3 separate regions of the Homo sapiens genome follow, and all the other regions are linked to region 2. Evidence: fine-mapped expression QTL. A gene starts in region 2. Each other region holds a variant in brackets. All regions are shown on one strand. Distances are from middle to middle.

Region 1 (5,675 bases), 45 kb after region 2:
TAGAAACAGACAGACGTGGGGCCCGAAGAGCCCTGGAGACTGCTGCGCCCAGATCTATGCTTGGCCTATTCAGTTCTTGAGCTAAGAATCCTTCCTACTCCCCTCCCCTCCCCTCCCCTCCCCTCACAGCATATGGTACATTTGTCACCATTATAGCACCATTTTTGACATATTAAATCCACCTTTTATTCAGATTCCCTTAGTTTTTCCCTAATGTCGTCTTCCTGTTCCACGATTCTACTCAGGACTCCACGTGACATTCAGGTGACATGCCTCCTTAGGTCCCTCCCCTCCCCTCCCTTCTCCTCCCCTCCCTTCCCCTTCCTTCTCCTTCCCTGCTCCCCTGCCCTCCCCCTCCTCCCCTCCCTTCCCCTTCCCTCCCCTCCCCTCTCCTCCTCTCCCCTCTCCTCCCCTCTCCTCCCCTCTCCTTTCCTTTCCTTTTTATTGACACAAGGTCTCACTCTGCCACAATCTTGGCTCCAGCCTCAACCTCCAAGGCTCAAGCAATCCCCTTACCTCAGCCTCCCGAGTAGCTGAGACTATAGGCATGTGCCAGCACACCAAGCTATTTTTTGGTATTTTTTGTACAGACAGGGGTTTCACCATGTTGCCAAAGCTGGTCTCGAACTCCTGAGCTCAAGGGATCTGCCCACCTCGGCCTCCCAGAGTGCTGGGATTACAGGTGTGAGCCACCATGCCCAGCTAGAAATTTTCCTCTGGTTAAAGTGGTTTAATTTAAGTTTCTGTCATTTGCAACCAAACGATTTAATAGATAAGGCTCTGGGTGGCATTTTCTTCTGCTTAGGCTGCCATAAGAAGTGCCACAGACTGGGTGGCTTAAACAGCAGAAACTTGTTTCTCACAGTTTTGGAGGCTGGAAGTCCACATCAGGGCGCTCGTGGGGTTGGTTTCTGGGAAGGCCTCTCTTCCTGGCCGGCGGGTGTCACCTTCTCACGGCATCCTCCCATGGCCTCTTCCCTGTGCACACTTAGAGAGGGGGTGGTCTCTGGTGTCTTTCCTCTTGGTATAAGGACTCCAACCCTATTGGCTTGAGGGCCCACCCTCGTGGCCTCATAACCTTAGCTACCTCCCTGATGGCCCTATCTTCGAATGTGGTCGCATTGGAGGCCAGTGATTCAGCACCGGAATTTCTCTGAGAAATCCAGTCTGTAACAGGTTGAATTGTGTCTGCCAAAATCCATGTGTTGGAGTCGTAACTCCCAGCGTCTCAGAATGTGAACTTATTTGGATACAGGGTCATTGCAGATGTATTGAAGTGAAGATGTGGTCATTAGGGTGGGTCCTAGTCCACCTGACCGATGTCTTTATCCAAAAGGGGAAATTTGGACACAGACACGCACACAGGGAGAGGGCCACGTGTGGATTGGAGTTCTGCTGCCCCAAGCCAAGGAACCAGCAGAAGCTCTGAGGGAGGCCAGGAACAGGCCCTTCCTAGCGCCCTCAGAGGGAGCACAGCCCTGCCTGCACCGTGGTCTCAGACTTCTGACCTCCAAAACTGTGAAGGGGTCGTGTCTAGTCCAAGCCATGATATTAGCCAGCAAGGGCTGCTGTAACAAATCTCACAGACGCAGGGCTTCAACCACAGAAATGTGTCCTCTCACGGTTCTGGAGGTCAGAAGTCTGAGACAAAGATGCCGGCAGAGCTGATTTCTCTGGAGGCCTCTCTCCTTGGTCTGCAGGCGGCCGCCTGCTCGCTGCACCCTCACATGCTCTATTTTTATGCACTCACACATCCCTGGTGGCTCTTTGTGTGTCTGAATCACCTCTTTTTTTTTTTTTTTTTAAAGGATGTCAGCCGGGTTGGATTAGGGCCAACCTAAGGGCCTCAATTTAACTCAATCACCTTTTTAAAGGCCCAGTCTCCAAATGCAGCCACATTCTGAGGTACTGGGGGTTAGGGCTTCAACACAGGAATCGGCGGGTGAAGGGTGGCTGGGGGACACAGCCTGTGAGCTTTGTTATGGCAGCTCGAGGAAACTCTGCAGCCTCTAGAGGATTGTCTTTAAGGGGCTGGACCCTCAAGCCGGCTCTGTGCAGTCCCAGGGTGGTCTCCTCTGGTCCTGCCCTCTGTGCAGACCCTCAAAGCGACAGCCTGGCCTGTGACTCCCAGTGCCGCGGCCCCTCCCTTCCTTCCCAGGTCCTCTCCGCTCTCTGCCCACATTAGAATCTCCCCGGCTGCCCATTCACAGGCACCTCCTGCATCCCCACTTCCACTGCGCCCGCTGGATAACTGCACCTGTGCATTCTAA[A/G]TAAAGATGCATTTATTGAGCGTCTAGGGATCTGCCCTGGCAGTTCCCATGGTCTAAAAAGGAAGTCAGACAAGTAAAGACTGCGGGTTATGAGATAATTACAACTGGGCACTGTCTGGGTCAGACACTTCCCTCCACAGCCCATGTCCTGCAGCCAGCAGGGGCGCCTTTTCCTTGTTGGCACAGAGACTCCTTGCAGTCCAGCCGAAGAGGGGTCACAGGGTGGGCATTCTGGGAGCCAAGGGTGGCTCTGCTGAGGAGTGCACCCAGAGCTGGGTGTCGGTTAAACTCTCCTGTTGAGAGGCTGCCCAGGTGGCGGTGCGCAGCAGGGGGCTCTGACTCGGGAATGTGGGCAGGTGCAGCGGCAGGAGAGCTGAGAGGTGCAGAGATGGGTCAGGGGCCTGGGAGAGTGCAAGGGAGAAACATGTGAAGGCATGAGCCAAGGCAGCCACTGTGGGAACGAGAGGTTGACACGGGTGCCAGAGGAATGGAGAGCTGGTGTCCTGCAGGGGTGACTGGGGCAGGAAGCTACCCGCTGGCAGGCCTGCCGAGGGGCTGGGATGGGTGAGGTTAGTGCTGGGTCAGCGGTTCCACTGCAGTCTGTGTCAATTTGAAATTCTATGCCTGCGGAAGAGGGAGAGCCTCCCAATCTTCAACACTGCAGCCAGCAGTGGAGGGGATGCAGCCTCCAGTTGGCGTCTTGGCTTGGGGTGGGGCAGGCAGGTCAGGGGGTGTTGCTCAGACCCAGTGGACAGACCTTGATGAGTTCTCACCAGTGTGACTCTCCATGCTGCCCCCCACCGGCCCTCACTGGCCACGTCCTGTTCCATACTCAGGTTTCTGACCCATGATATGGTTTGGATCTTTGTCTCCGCCCAAATCTCATGTGGAATTGCAATCCTCAATATGGAGATAGGGCTTCGTGGGAGGCAGCTTTGCCAGGCCTGGAGGTCACCACCTGGTCAGCCATTGGATTTATTCATCCCAAAGGGGACTCTTGGCTTCGCTTGGGGTGAATGTCCACAGGTCCCAGATGACCCAAGAGTGGAGGCTGGAAGTGGAGCTGCCCTTGGAGAGAGGCCGGCACTGGAGTGCTGTAGTCCGTTCTTGCACTGCTATAAAGAAATACCTGAGACTGGGTAATTTATAAAGGAAGCAGGTGTCATTGGCTCGTGGTTCCACAGGCTATACAGGAAGCATGGCAGCATCTGCCTCTGGGGAGGCCTTGGGGATCTTTGACTTATGGCTGAGGCCAAGCAGGAGCACCAAGGTGGGTGGTGTTAAACCATGAGAAACCGCCCCAAGATCCAGTCACCTCCCACCAGGCCCCACCTCCAGCACTGGGGTTTGCAACTGCAGTATCCCCACCTCTCCCCAGACTTTCCCGGACAATCACTTGAAGACCTGCAAGACAGAGAAGCAGATGCCCCCGAAGCTTCCACTCACAGCCCTGCAACACCTGGGCTGCCTGCCTCCCTCTGTAGTATCACACACATTTAACTCATCGACCCAAGAGTGAGATCAAGATCTTCACTGCTTGTGCACGCATGAGGGGAGGGCGCCTACAACTCAGATGATCCAAGCACTGGCGCCAAAGGCTCAGAATCCTCTGGACTAGCTCTGCCCAATAGGGATGTCATGTGAGCCACAAGTGCGAACCACGTAGGTGTTAAAAAATTCTTAGTGCCCACATTTCAAAAGTAAAAAGAAAAAGATGACATTGATTTTAGTAATATATTTAATGTAGTCCAAGATATGCTCAAAATATTATCATCGCAACATGCCATCAAAATAAAACTTATTAATGAGATATTTTGCCTTCATCCTTTTTTCCTACTAAATCTTTTTTTTTTTTTTTTTTTTTTAAATTGAGAAGAGGCTCACTCTGTAACCCAGGCTGGAGTGCAGTGGCATGATCATAGCTTACTGAAGCCTCGACCTCCCAGGCTCAGGGTATCCTTCCACCTCAGCCTCCTGGGTAGATGGGACTACAGGTGCCTGCACCATGCCTGGCTAATTTTTAAAAATTTCTACAGAGACAAGTTCTCTCTATGTTGCCCAGACTGGGAAATTTTTTTCTAGAAATGGGGTCTTCCTATGTTGCCCAGGCTGGTCTCAAGGGATCTTCCCACCTCAGCCTCCCAAATTGTTGGGATTATAGGCCTAAGCCACTGTACCCAGCCTTTATACAGAATCATTACATTTCAGTGTATATTTTGCATTTTATAGCCCATCCCAATTCATACTGGCTCAGTAGCCACATGTGGCTGGTAGCTGTGTCTTGGTTGTTATAGGTGTTATGGACTAAACGTTTGTCTCCCCCAAATTCATGTGTTGAATTCCTAACCTTCAACACAAGGATATTCAGAGGTGGGCCTTTGGGATGTAATTAGGTCATGAGGGTGTGGCCCTCATGAATGGGATTAGTGCCCTTATACGAAGAGACAGTGGAGTTTGCTCCTCCTCTGTCTGCTGTCTGCCATGTAGGACACAATGAGAAGGTGGCTATCTACAAACCTGGAAGTGAGCTCGTATCAGACAGGGGATCTACCAGCACCTTGATCTTGGACTCCCCAGACCCTAGAACTCTAAGAAATAAATCTGTTATTTAAGCCACCCATTTAATGGTAGTTTGTTACCACAGCCTGTCTTAGTCCATTTACTGTGGCTTATAACAGAATACCTGAAACTGGGTAATTAATAAAGAAACAAGATTTATTTCTTACAGTCCTGAAGGCTGGGAAGTCCAAGGTTGAGAGGCTGCATCTGGTGAGGGCCTTCATGCTAGCAGGGACTTTCTGCAAAGTCCCAAGGCAGCCCAGGGCATCACAAGATGAGGGGCTGAGTGTGCAAGCTCAGTTCTCTCTCCTTGTTATAGAGCCACAAGTCCTACTCCCAAGAACATCCATTAGCCCATTACTCGCTGAATGGAGTAATCTACTCATGAGGGAAGGGGACATATGACATAATCACCTCTTAAAGGCCCCACCTCCCAATACTGCCACATTGGGGGTTAAATTTCAACATGAGGAAGGAGACAAACATTCAAACCATAGCATAGTGCAAGCCAGGGAAGACAGTAGGTCTAGTATGGCCCGGGATAAGAAGGGAACTGCTAAAACCATGCTTGAGCAGGAGACAGCCAGTGAGACACTAGAACCAGCCTTTGTAGCCACAGCAATGGACCAAGAACACTCAGCATCTTCTCACCTGCTTGTCAAGACATTAGAAAGAAAAGCGGTGCTGCAAGATTATACTTGGGTGAGATCTCAGTGGGTGGGGTGAGATGACAGTGGGTGGGGAGAGATGACGGTGGGTGGGGTGAGATCTCGGTGGGGTGAGATGACAGTGGGTGGGGTGAGATGACGGTGGGTGGGGTGAGATGACAGCGGGTGGGGTGAGATG
Region 2 (5,675 bases):
AATACCAAAACTAGGTAAATTTTTTCAAATACCAACATTATTGGAGAAAGAGGCCAAGGGACCGTCAACAGAAATAGGGAGCTAGCCCAGGACGTCAGTAGCAGAGGTGGTTTGAAGGAAAACAAGGTGATGGAAGAAAAAGAACTAACCACTGAGTTGCCTGGCAGCTTGCAATGGAAGTGGCGGTGGGGAGATGACCCTAAAGCTAAAAGCAACATAGCAACACCATAGACTGCATAAGACCAATCTATACAGGAGGGTTGCTGGGTTTGAGGTGTGGGAAATGAACTTAAAAATACCAGATCCAGGATGGGCACGGTGGCTCAGGCCTGTAATCCCAGCACCTTAGGAGGCCAAGGTGGGCGGGTCACGAGGACAGGAGTTCAAGACCGGCCTGACCAACCTGGTGAAACCCCGTCTCTAATAAAAATACAAAAATTAGCCGGGCGTGGTAGCGGGTGCCTGTAATCCCAGCTACTCAGGAGGCTGAGGCAGGAGAATTGCTTGAACTCGGGAGGCAGAGGTTGCAGTGAGCCAAGATCGCGCCACTGCACTCCAGCCTGGGTGACAGAGTGAGACTCTATTAAAAAAAAAAAAAAATTTGTTGGGTGTGGTGGCATGTTCCTGTGGTCCCAGCTACTTGGGAGGCTGAGGTAAGAGGATCACTTGAGCCTGGGCGGCAAGGGGTAGCAGTGAGCAGAGATTGCGCCACTGCACTCCAGCCTGCGTGACAAAGTGAGACCCCGTCTCAAAAAAATAAAAAACAAAAAAAACCCCAAAAGACCCACAAACAAACCCCATAGGCAAGCACAATTTTCATAAAATCATTAATAGTTTTCCAAAGCAAAACAGTAAATACCTAAACAACTAAAATTGAGGGTTATAAAAGACACCACAAAAAAAAAACCTCACATAGGGAAACATTTTAGAAGATTCTAGGCTTTATCACTCTCGGTTTTTCTACCTGAAGTTAAAAGCTGTGTATAAAATACAAAGTCAATATTTGATGACAGTTACCTCTGATTCTACTGTGTCTTGTCCTTCTTTTGAACTTTTTCCACTCTTCCCTGCTTTTGGTGATTCCTGGTAAACATCAAGCAAAGTCAATTAGTCTTCTCACTTTTTAGACAGGTAAACATCAGATAAGCCAAATGCAGTTTTAAAAGTGATTTATACAACTACAGCTTCTGATATTTTTAATTCATACCATTAGGAAATTCTATATCATACCGTTTAGGATTCCAACAGTGCAATGCCCCCCAACCCCCATTCAGATTCTTTTCGTTTTATCTGCATTTGAGGTTGAAAACTTCAAGCAGAAAACAGATAAATCCAATTTTATACAGTGCTTCTGGCATTTTGAGATCCACATCACATCCCTTTCTACCCTCCCACCCTAAACCCTATGAGTGAGGATTTCTGGGGTGATAATGAAACGCTACAGAGCTCCACCTGAAGCAGAAACATACCCGCCCCCCCGAATGCAAACGCAGCACCCTTGCTCGCAGCCCTCACCGCCGCCGCCACCCAGGATAATAATAGTGTTCGAGAGCCCCAGAGCGTCCCTCCGGGGCGGCAGAGAATTCCTTACCAGCTCTCAGCGGGGTCCCTTCTCGCTCCCTTTCCCCCGTACAGGGGTCCCTCCCCAGGCGTCTACAGCCCCCATCCCTGAAGCTCCTTTCCGGGAGCCTGCGAGGCTGCGAACCCCCTCGGCGGCCGCACCTGCCCGCCCAAGCCCACGGCGCGCTGTCGGAAACGGGCGCCCCTCCGACCCCCTCCCCGGGCCGCGCCCTCCCTCCACGCCCAGCCCCGGCCCATCACGAAGGTCCCAGCGGCCCGGGCCTGCGCCCCGCGGCTCCGGCGCGATCCCCGGGCTCCCCGCCCCCACCGGGCATGAGGCCGAGAGAAGCCCGGGGATGCCTGGCTCGGCCGCCCTCGGGGACGCGAAGCCCGCGGCGTCAGGCGGGGAACTGAGCCGGGGCCCGGGCGCAGGACCCCGGTGCCGTCGCGCCCTCCCCCGGCAGTCCCTCCCTGCTCCCTCCGTCCCGCGGCCGGGCCCGGACTCACTTTCTCCTTCTTGTTTTTATTCGGCATGGCTGGAGCGGGCCGCCGCCGCCGCCGCCGCCCCTGCCGCCGCCTGCCCCCGCAGCAGCAGCGCCCCCGCCCCGGCCGTCGCGCCCCCGCGGCCGCCGCCGCCGCCGCCGCCCGGGGACTGAGTCTTTCGCTTGCTCTCGCTTCCCCTTTTCCAGACTCCCAGAGGCTGCGGCAGCCACGGCGGCGGCGGCGGCGGCGGCGGCGGCAGCGGCGGCGTCTCTCCGCCCCTCCCCCGGCCGGCCCGCCCCGCCCCTCTCCTCCCACCCCCCGGCCGGCCGCCCCGCCCCGCCCGCCGCTCGCCCCACCCCCGCGCCCGGCCCCGCCCCGCTGCACTCAACAGCGCCCTGCCATTGGTCGACGCGCCCCCACGTACCCTAACGCTCCCCGCTCCCCCCACCCTCTCCGCGCGACCCGTTCACGCCCCCGCCCTCCGTCCCGAGTCGCTGCGAGCCGGCCTCAGGCAGGCCGCGGCCTCCTGGCGCGGGGCTGACCGCTGAGCAGAGCTGAGCCGACTCAGGGGAGGGAGCATGTGGCTGCGACTGCGGTGACAGGGCCGTGGCCCGCTGTGGAGGCGCAAGACAGAGCGTGAGACGTAGGAAATGCACATTTGAAATGTATGGCAACAACTTCTGCAGCCGGCGAAACGCGAACCGTGGCCTCTTGGCCTTGCCCCCTCACCGCCGCGGCTCTCGTTGCAGTCAAGAGTGCCTGGCACGCTTTGCACTGAGGCGCACGGGGAGGCCCGGGAACCGAGCGAGCGGCAGTTTCGCGGGACACCGCTGGGCCCCGCCTCCCCTCCCTTCCCTCCCCTCCCCTTCCCTCCTCTCCCTCCACTCCCCTCCCCTCCGTCCCCTCCCCTCGACCACCCCGTCCCCTGCCCTCCCCTTCTCTCGACCAGCCCGTCCCCTGCCCTCCCCTCCCCTCCCCTCGACCAGCCCGTCCCCTCCCCTCCTCTTCCCTCGGCCAGCCCCTCCCCTCGGCCAGCCCTTCCCCTCGACCAACCCCTCTCCTCGACCGGCCCCTCCCCTCGACCGGCCCCTCCCCTTGGCCGGGCCCTCCCCTTGACCGGCCCCTCCCCTCGACCGGCCCCTCCCCTCGGCCGGCCCCTTCCCTCGGCCAGCCCCTCCCCTCGACCAGCCCCTCCCCTCGACCAGCCCCTCCCCTCACCAGCTCAGCTTTCCGCAGCTCCTCCCGCGAGGTCCCGCCCATCCGACAGCCCGCCCCTCCCTGGTTGGTCCCGCCCTCCGCAGTTTCTCCCGCAAGGTCCCGCCTACCCGACAGTCCCGTCCTTTCCTGGTTGGTCCCGCCCTCCGCAGCTTTTGCCGCGAGGTCCCACCCACCCGACAGCCCCGCCCCTCTCCAGTCGGCCCCGCCCTCCGCAGCTCCTTCCGCGAGGTCACGCCCACATGCGCAGCCCCTCTCCTCCGGCGTCGGCCCCGCCCACCGAGGCGAGGCCTCAAAGACTTGGTGGCCGCTGCGCCAATAGGATTTTATTTTTATTCTTTAATTTGGCTTGATCATAAATGGTGAGGAAACCTCTGCATGACTGGGAGTCACCTGATTTCTCTCAGCTTGTTAATAGCTGTGAGGAGAGGGTGTCCAAGGGAAAAACGTTAACTTTTCAATACAATACTTCCGCGGTCCACCTCGTGCCCAAAACTATTGAAGACGCTAAGGACAGGCGTCCCAGATTGCAGAAATGCATTAGGTAGTAAGACTCTAGGAGCGTACGGATTTCACGTGCGAGAGGCATTGGTGCTTCACCTGTGATGATGAAGGAGCTGCATCTTAACTGGCAGCTTAAAAATCATCGCGTTCTCTTAGCCCCCGGAGTTTTGTTCTTGGAAGTTTCCAGGCAAAGCATTTTCCATTATTCTCAGCAGTTCTGCAATGAGAAAGCTGAAAGACGGGGTAAGAAAAAAAAGATCTAAAGGGAGGAATGTTGTGGGAGGTCCAGAAAGTAAGTTCTGTCTGCGGGTATCTGAATGTCTGCCGGCTCTTAGACGAATATCTGTAGGTAAGCAGGACAGTCTCAACTATTTGTGCGGAATAAGTGGCTTTTTTATTAATAATTTAAGTGGGTTAATGGTGTCTCCAAAACAATTTTGAGGATAGAGCGATGCCCCTAGTTAACTTAATAACATTTTAAAAATAAAATATGTGCTGTCAATTTAATAAGTCCAGGATATATCCATATCAAAAAGGAGTAGCTCTGAAACTATTGGTTTATGGCCATGAACTCTTAGGGAGGCTTAGAGGCATCTCTGAGACAATCCTTTGCCACCCAAATCCTTGTATCATATCTCCTGATCCGGTGTTGCATACAATTCATTCATTCGACCCACATTTGTTGGATAACTACTATGTGCAAAGCATGATGCCAGAAATTTCATGGTGAACAAGGCACTACCCTTGTCCTCAAGCAGTTCACATGCTTGCATGGAAATAGAAAAAACCAGCAATCAGAAGGACATGACATGTGACAAGTCTACAGGACTGGGGTGAGGGGGGTCAGGCTTGGAAGCATGACAGAGCACTGCACAGGACGTTTTGTTATGGCCGGAGATGAGACTGAAGGAACAGCGACGCTGAATTAAGACTGGTAGACCTTGCCAAGATATTGTACTTCTTTTTGAATGCATTTCAGGGTCACTGACAGATACTGAAGTGGGGAGTGATGTACTCACATTTGCATTTTAGAAGACATCGGTGGCAGGAGTGTGGAGGAGGTGAGGGTGGAAGTAAAAGCAGGAGGCAGAAAGAGCAATCAGCATCCAGCTATGGTTCAGGTGCGTGCCAGGGAGGCATCTCCACAGCAACGGGGGGAAGGATCGCCGACGCGACAGAGAGCCAGAATCGAGGATAAAAAGCGAATGCTCATGCTTGTAGTTTGGGCAACACAGTGAATGATGAGGAAGGGATGCAAGTGGAGGGCAGGTTTGCAAGGGAACAAGATTCCAGTTTGGGACACGTTGCTGTGTCCGCAAAATGTAGGTAGAGGTGTCCAAGATGGCAACTGGAAATATAGCATAGAGGACTAGTTGCATGTCAGGTTAGAGGTTTCTCAGGTCAGTTTAGAGTTTTAGGGAAAGCATAGGGACAGGGTACAAGCAAAGCTGCCTGATTAACATCCAGTGACCTTGAAACCATAGCAACCAGAGAAATCTGACTCAACACCATTACCTGTACAACTGCATGTGTACGTCACTGGCCATTGGACTGGCTTCATTTGCCCACATTAGGGAGGACCATCTTTAAGGACAGTTAGTTACCGACTACCCGTAGAACACACTGGGTTTCATGCAGTGTCTTAGGTGCTGTGGTATTTACAGGAACGCTAAAGATAGATATAGCTCCTGCTCCCAAAAGAAGGGATTCAGGACAAGCTATTGAGATAGGATATAAAGCCATTATGTGGGTGTGTGTGTGTGTGTGTGGCTGAGGGTTACCTCTTCCAGGATGGCCCCACATTCCATGTTCATGAAGGCACTGCTCGCATCACACAAAACTCCTTTTCTTCCAACCCCTGCTCCTCTGGGACACTTTTTTGAGATGGTCCCTGATATAGTTAGGATATTTAT
Region 3 (5,321 bases), 150 kb before region 2:
CCATAACCTCCCAAAGTGCTGGGATTACAGGTGTGAGCCACTGCGCCCGGCCAGGATCCAAGTTTTTCAACCCAGAAAATGTACTACACAACCTTTAAGGTCCTGTTGGGAAAGCTGTGGGATTCCACGAGAGGAGGATCTGCCATCAGAAGGCCCTGCTGCTTGCATGCTTCCTACCTGCGAACTGCACTGAGAGCTGAGATGAGAACAGACCATGCAGCTGGCAGCTCTAGAGGAATGGCTGGTCTGTCTCCCCGGCCCTTTCCTGACTGACTTGTCATCTCTCATGCTCTATAGTTCACTTAGGTGTATTTTGTGTTCTTTTATTTCCCCACACTACCCAGAATATAAACCCCAAAAGGGCAAGGATTTTTTTTTTGAGACGGAGTCTCGCTCTGTCGCCCAGGCTGGAGTGCAGTGGCGTGATCTTGGCTCACTGCAAGCTCCGCCTCCAGGTTCACGCCATCCTCCTGCCTCAGCCCGAGTAGCTGGGACTACAGGCACCCGCCACCACACCCGGCTGATTTTTTTTTGTATTTTTTTTTTTTTTGAGACGGAGTCTCTCTCTGTCTCCCAGGCTGGAGTGCAGTGGTGTGAGCTCAGCTCACTGCAAGCTCCGCCTCCCAGGTTCACACCATTCTCCTGCCTCAGACTCTGAGTAGCTGGGACCACAGGCGCCTGCCACCACGCCCGGCTAATTTTTTGTATTTTCAGTAGAGACGGGGTTTCACTGTGTTCGCCAGGCTTGTCTCGAACTCCTGACCTCAGGTGATCTGCCTGCTTTGGCCTCCCAAAGTGCTGGGATTACAGGCATGAGCCACCATGCCCGGCCTTTTTTTTTGTATTTTTAGTAGAGACGGGGTTTCATTGTGTTAGCCAGGATGGTCTCGATCTCCTGACCTCGTGATCTGCCTGCATCGGCCTCCCAAAGCGCTGGGATTACAGGCATGAGCCACCACGCCTGGCCCTTTTTTGGTATTTTTTAGTAGAGATGGGGTTTCACCGTGTTAGCCAGCATGGTCTCAATCTCCTGACCTTGTGATCCACCCGCCTTGGCCTCCCAAAGTGCTGGGATTACAGGCGTGAGCCACCGCACCCGGCCCAGGGGCAAGGATTTTTGTGGGTTTTATTCATTGCTATATTGCCAGAATCTAAAACAGGGCCTGGTGTATAAGGTAAATATTCACATATTTGTCTAAGGAATGACTAAATGGCAGTTGTTTCATATATATACACACACACACACACACATAGATACACACATATGTATACAGTGTATTTTGAATTACATTCGTGCAAAGCTTATCTACCTTAGCCAGTTTTAAGTGACAAGCAAAAAATAAAATCTGCCAATAGTCCATACTCAACTTGGAAGAAGTGACCTCCAACAACTATTTAATCACATTATTACTTGCACAGCCTAGGGACGAAGTACTTTGTCACTTAGATCATCCCTGGACACATGTGGGCTCAAAGGCACGAGGGCAGGACCCTGATTTTGCAAAGGACAGACTAGATTCCAGAGAACACCCACATCGCTGAGTTCATTAAATCAGAATAAAGCTACATTGAAATGAAGATTCTTGCTCTCTGGGATAAACCTTATAGGATATAATTCAAATCCCTGCCTTATAAACATGAAAATGGACTACACATTATAGCCTTTAAGCCCATTATAGCCCAAGAAAAGAAAAAATTCTGAATGTTAAATTCTTGCTTACATAAGCACTTTTTGCAAAGATGATTAATCTGGCAATACAAGGGGGGAGAATAGCTACCTTTAAACACCTGTTCTTTCAAAATACGTTATTATAACACAGTTTTAATTTGCTTTCCAAGTATGAAAGGCTTGGTTTTGCTTTCGAGTGAAGAATACCGTTTTAGGACAAAACAGTGGAAGAGGTTTACTTAGGATTAAGAAAAAAATCCTGGAAACAGTAACTTGTGAAAGGAACAACTCACTTTAGTTTCTCTGCTTTGAACTGTTGTGTACAGTCATCAAATAGCTTTTGGTTCATCTCCATGAAGAGCTTCAGGGCGTTGTATATCAAGCCATGTATTGTCCTATAAAGAAAACCGCACGGTGAGCCTGGGAGCACGCATTCCTGCTGAGCCCTCGCCTCTCCACTCTCAGGCTGCTCCATATTCCAACAGTCCCACATCGCACAGGATCCCTAAGGTCTAAAATGCAAGGCCTGCTCATTCCGCGTTACTTGTTTTCTGACAGCCACACATCCCGAGACTTTCTTCACAGTGGCTCTCACATAGCCACAGAGGCCACTCCACTCACTGTCTCCAGCTGACAGTAGCCAAAAACGACCTTGCTCAGAA[A/G]CTGAATTAAAAACATTGAAACTTGAACAAATATAGTTAAGACAAAATTATAAAGAGGACAATAATGGCAATACTTGATTTCCTATAAATGTCAGTTTCTTTTCATCTTATTCCCTGAGGACAGAAAAATTAATTTTAATAATGGCAACACAGAGCTTTGAAAGAGAAAATAAAATGAGCATAAAACAGCTTAATCAATGCTTAGCTCTCAGGCTCTGACACGCATGGAGAGGGAAAGAGGCCAAATTGTTCCAGCTGAGCCTCTGGGTGACTCTAGTCCCAGCTGCCATGGGACTGCAGCCCTGTAAGAGCCCCGATCCCCCAGCAGACACCAGCGAAAGCCTGCGCAGCAGGACCTGCTCGACCCGCAGGACTGTGAGCAACAGGTGCCAGTAGCTAAAAACAAATAAATCCCAAAAAACGTAACCCTCAAATCATAATTCCTTCTTAATCCACTTTGTAATAAAACCCAAGTTGTACTTAGAAAACACTTAAAAGAACATTTTTTTCTTTGCAATGGGCGGGGATTGGAAGTCAGTTATGAATTGTGCTGACTTACATACTAAACTAAATTACACACAAGAAACATGGCGACACTCCAGGGGCTTTGTTGTCATTGTTGCGATTAAAAAAAAAAAAATCAATGCAAGCCAGGCGCGGTGGCTCACACCTGTAGTCCCGGCACCGTGGGAGGCTGAGGCGGGTGGGTCACTTCAGGTCAGGAGTTCAAGACCAGCCTGGCCAACATGGTGAAACCCCATCTCTACTACAAATGCAAAAATTAGCCAGGAGTGGTGGCTCATGTCTGTAGTCCCAGCTACTTGGGAGGCTGAGGTGGGAGAATCACTTGAACCTGGGAGGTGGAGGCTGCAGTGAGCCAGGATGGTGCCACTGCACTCCAGTCTGGGTGACAGAGCAAGACTCCATCTCAAAAATAAATAAATAAATAAAATAAATCAATGCTACAAAGAACAGGTTGTTGAGGGTGGATGTGCTGTATTAACAACTACAACCACCACGCTATTGCCATGAGGGTCTTGGCTGCTGCCTCCACTGCTATCAGCATGGCTGCTGGCCCTACAACCACTAAGTGACAGCAAATGCTTACTTGGTGCCTATCATAAGCCAGGTACTTTACGCATATTAACTTTATCTTAATCCTCACAACCAAGTGAAGATTGTTGCAAGGCAAAGCACTTTACTTTCTCAGTTTTTCCAAAGAGAAACTGTGGCTAAGAAAGACCTGGTGAGAGCTAACTTCCCCGGGTTCAGACAGCTGCTCAGGAGGAAGGCAGGAATGTGAACCAAAGTCATCCTCACTCTGATCTGCCTGCCCTTCTCTGTTGAATTTCTGGGCGGCAACCCTCAGAAGACTTGACGCGAGTGGACTGGCTGGACGCTCGCTCGGGGGTCTGGCTCAGAGCTCCAGGGCTAACACCTGTCTGGCTGCTGCCCTGCAGAATTCTGGGAAGGAGGCAGTGCCACCTGCAGCCTCGAGCGGACAAGGAGAGAGGGTGCATGGGAGAGGGCTGGTCCGCCGGCAGCAGGGTGACTGTGCAGCACAGCCAGAGGGGTGCCCAATAGACACTGCGAGTTAGGAGACCGCACCGGGCCAGAGTGCCGCTCACCAGCTTTGGGACCGCAGACTGGGCTGCGAATGCCCTCCAAGTCTCACCTTCCTCACCCATAAACTAAGGGAGGAGGGCTGGATAGCATAACCTGCTCTTCTTTAAGTTCTGAGTTATAATTACAATATACAATGGAAAGAGATGAAAGAAGGTGGGGAAAGAAAAACTCAGTCGTATTTCTTTAAATAGCAGGAATATTAGATGATACCATATTAATAAATAATATGGCCTGGGCGCAGTGGCTCACGTCGTCCCAGCACTTTGGGAGGCTGAGGCAGGTGGAATACTTGAGTCCAGGAGTTCGAGACCAGCCTGGGCAACATGGCAAAACCCCATCTCTACAAAAAATACAAAAATTAGCCAGGCGTAGCGGTGGGTGCCTGTAGTCCCAGCTACTCAGGACCCTGAGGCAGGAGGTTTGCTTGAGCCCAGGAGGTCGAGGCTGAAGTGAGCCATGATCGTGACACTACACTCCAGCCGGGGGGACATAGCAAGACCCTGTCTAAAAATAAACAAATAAAATACAAATTTTAAAAAAGAAAAATAAATAAATAATGTGGCACCCATATCAACAGTTTCCTTTTAAAGTCTCAGAAGACTATTGCTCAGTAAACGGATTTATTCATCCTCTTTAAGTCAAAAGATGAAGGAGCGGAGTAGGAGGAAATGTTTTTGGCTGCTGGGACTATGGGGCTGTGTTCAGATCACCTGGCTTCCCTCTTCTTCTCCAGGTAGTGACCACTGTGGGGTGGTTCTTGGGTCTCACACAGGGGCTCATCCAGGGTGCATGTCAGCAGAGCTCAATAGACACCCCGAGAATGCAGTGGCCACTGTGCCCCCGCCGGGGCTGAGCCCCACTGGGCTCTGCAGAGACCTTCAGCTTCTCTGCAGGACGCTCAGGAAGAGGCCTAGAAACTGCTGCTACTGGGAGGTGGCTGCAAACCAATGTGCCTCTATACTGGCAGGAATGAAGGTATAAGGTGGTAAATTCAACGGCCACAGAAACAACCCACGCTGCTACTTAATTTATGAGTCCACAAAGCAACTGACCTTCTTGTTTTTTAATTGATATTTAAAATTCTGATATTTATTCTTACTGAAGTAGCAGTAAAACGTGCCATATTTTAAAATGACTGAAAAAGATGGCAGCCAGTTCTTTCTTACTTGTTCCAATGGGTCTTTGAGTTGCGGTACAAGGAAGGAAACATGATGGGCAGAATCTTCGCTGCGTTGTCACTGATTAAACTCATGATGTATTCATTATTCCAGTAATAGAGAGCTCGCTCTGCCACCTGAAAGACACAAGTGGATGGCTTGCTGGAGGTTGTGCCTGAGACATCAGGTGGCTGTCCTTGCTGTTAA

Which allele goes with the higher level. Alleles are on the strand shown, and positions count from the first base shown. SD is a standard deviation of normalised expression in the study named. Not every link is listed here.
In carriers of allele G in region 1, the expression in thyroid of the gene that starts at base 2,279 in region 2 tends to be lower than with A alone (small effect, 0.17 SD a copy in GTEx).

What was found. PIP is the estimated chance that this variant, and not a neighbour inherited with it, causes the effect. A credible set is the group of variants that fine-mapping cannot tell apart.
Region 1: its variant is the best candidate, but not a certain one, in a credible set for the expression of PPP2R5C in thyroid (GTEx, PIP 0.56).
Region 3: its variant is the best candidate, but not a certain one, in a credible set for the expression of PPP2R5C in whole blood (TOPMed, PIP 0.82).

What each region holds. Positions count from the first base shown.
Region 1 is chr14:101,713,618-101,719,292 of GRCh38, reverse strand. The region is part of intron 1 of LINC02320 (long intergenic non-protein coding RNA 2320); the gene reads left to right. Among named protein-coding and RNA genes, the nearest start is that of LINC00239, 14 kb to the left of the region's middle. RefSeq lists a silencer at 644-849. The variant A/G (reference allele first, on the strand shown) is at 2,271.
Region 2 is chr14:101,758,313-101,763,987 of GRCh38, reverse strand. It overlaps PPP2R5C (protein phosphatase 2 regulatory subunit B'gamma), which reads right to left and starts at 2,279. Exons shown (of 16, transcript NM_001352913.2): 1 at 2,068-2,279; 2 at 1,018-1,083. The coding sequence starts at 2,094. RefSeq lists silencers at 1,644-1,713, 1,764-1,983, 2,124-2,363, 2,374-2,533, 2,994-3,043 and 2 more.
Region 3 is chr14:101,906,332-101,911,652 of GRCh38, reverse strand. It overlaps PPP2R5C (protein phosphatase 2 regulatory subunit B'gamma), which reads right to left. Exons shown (of 16, transcript NM_001352913.2): 12 at 5,124-5,251; 13 at 1,963-2,064. Among named protein-coding and RNA genes, the nearest start is that of DYNC1H1, 56 kb to the left of the region's middle. The variant A/G (reference allele first, on the strand shown) is at 2,332.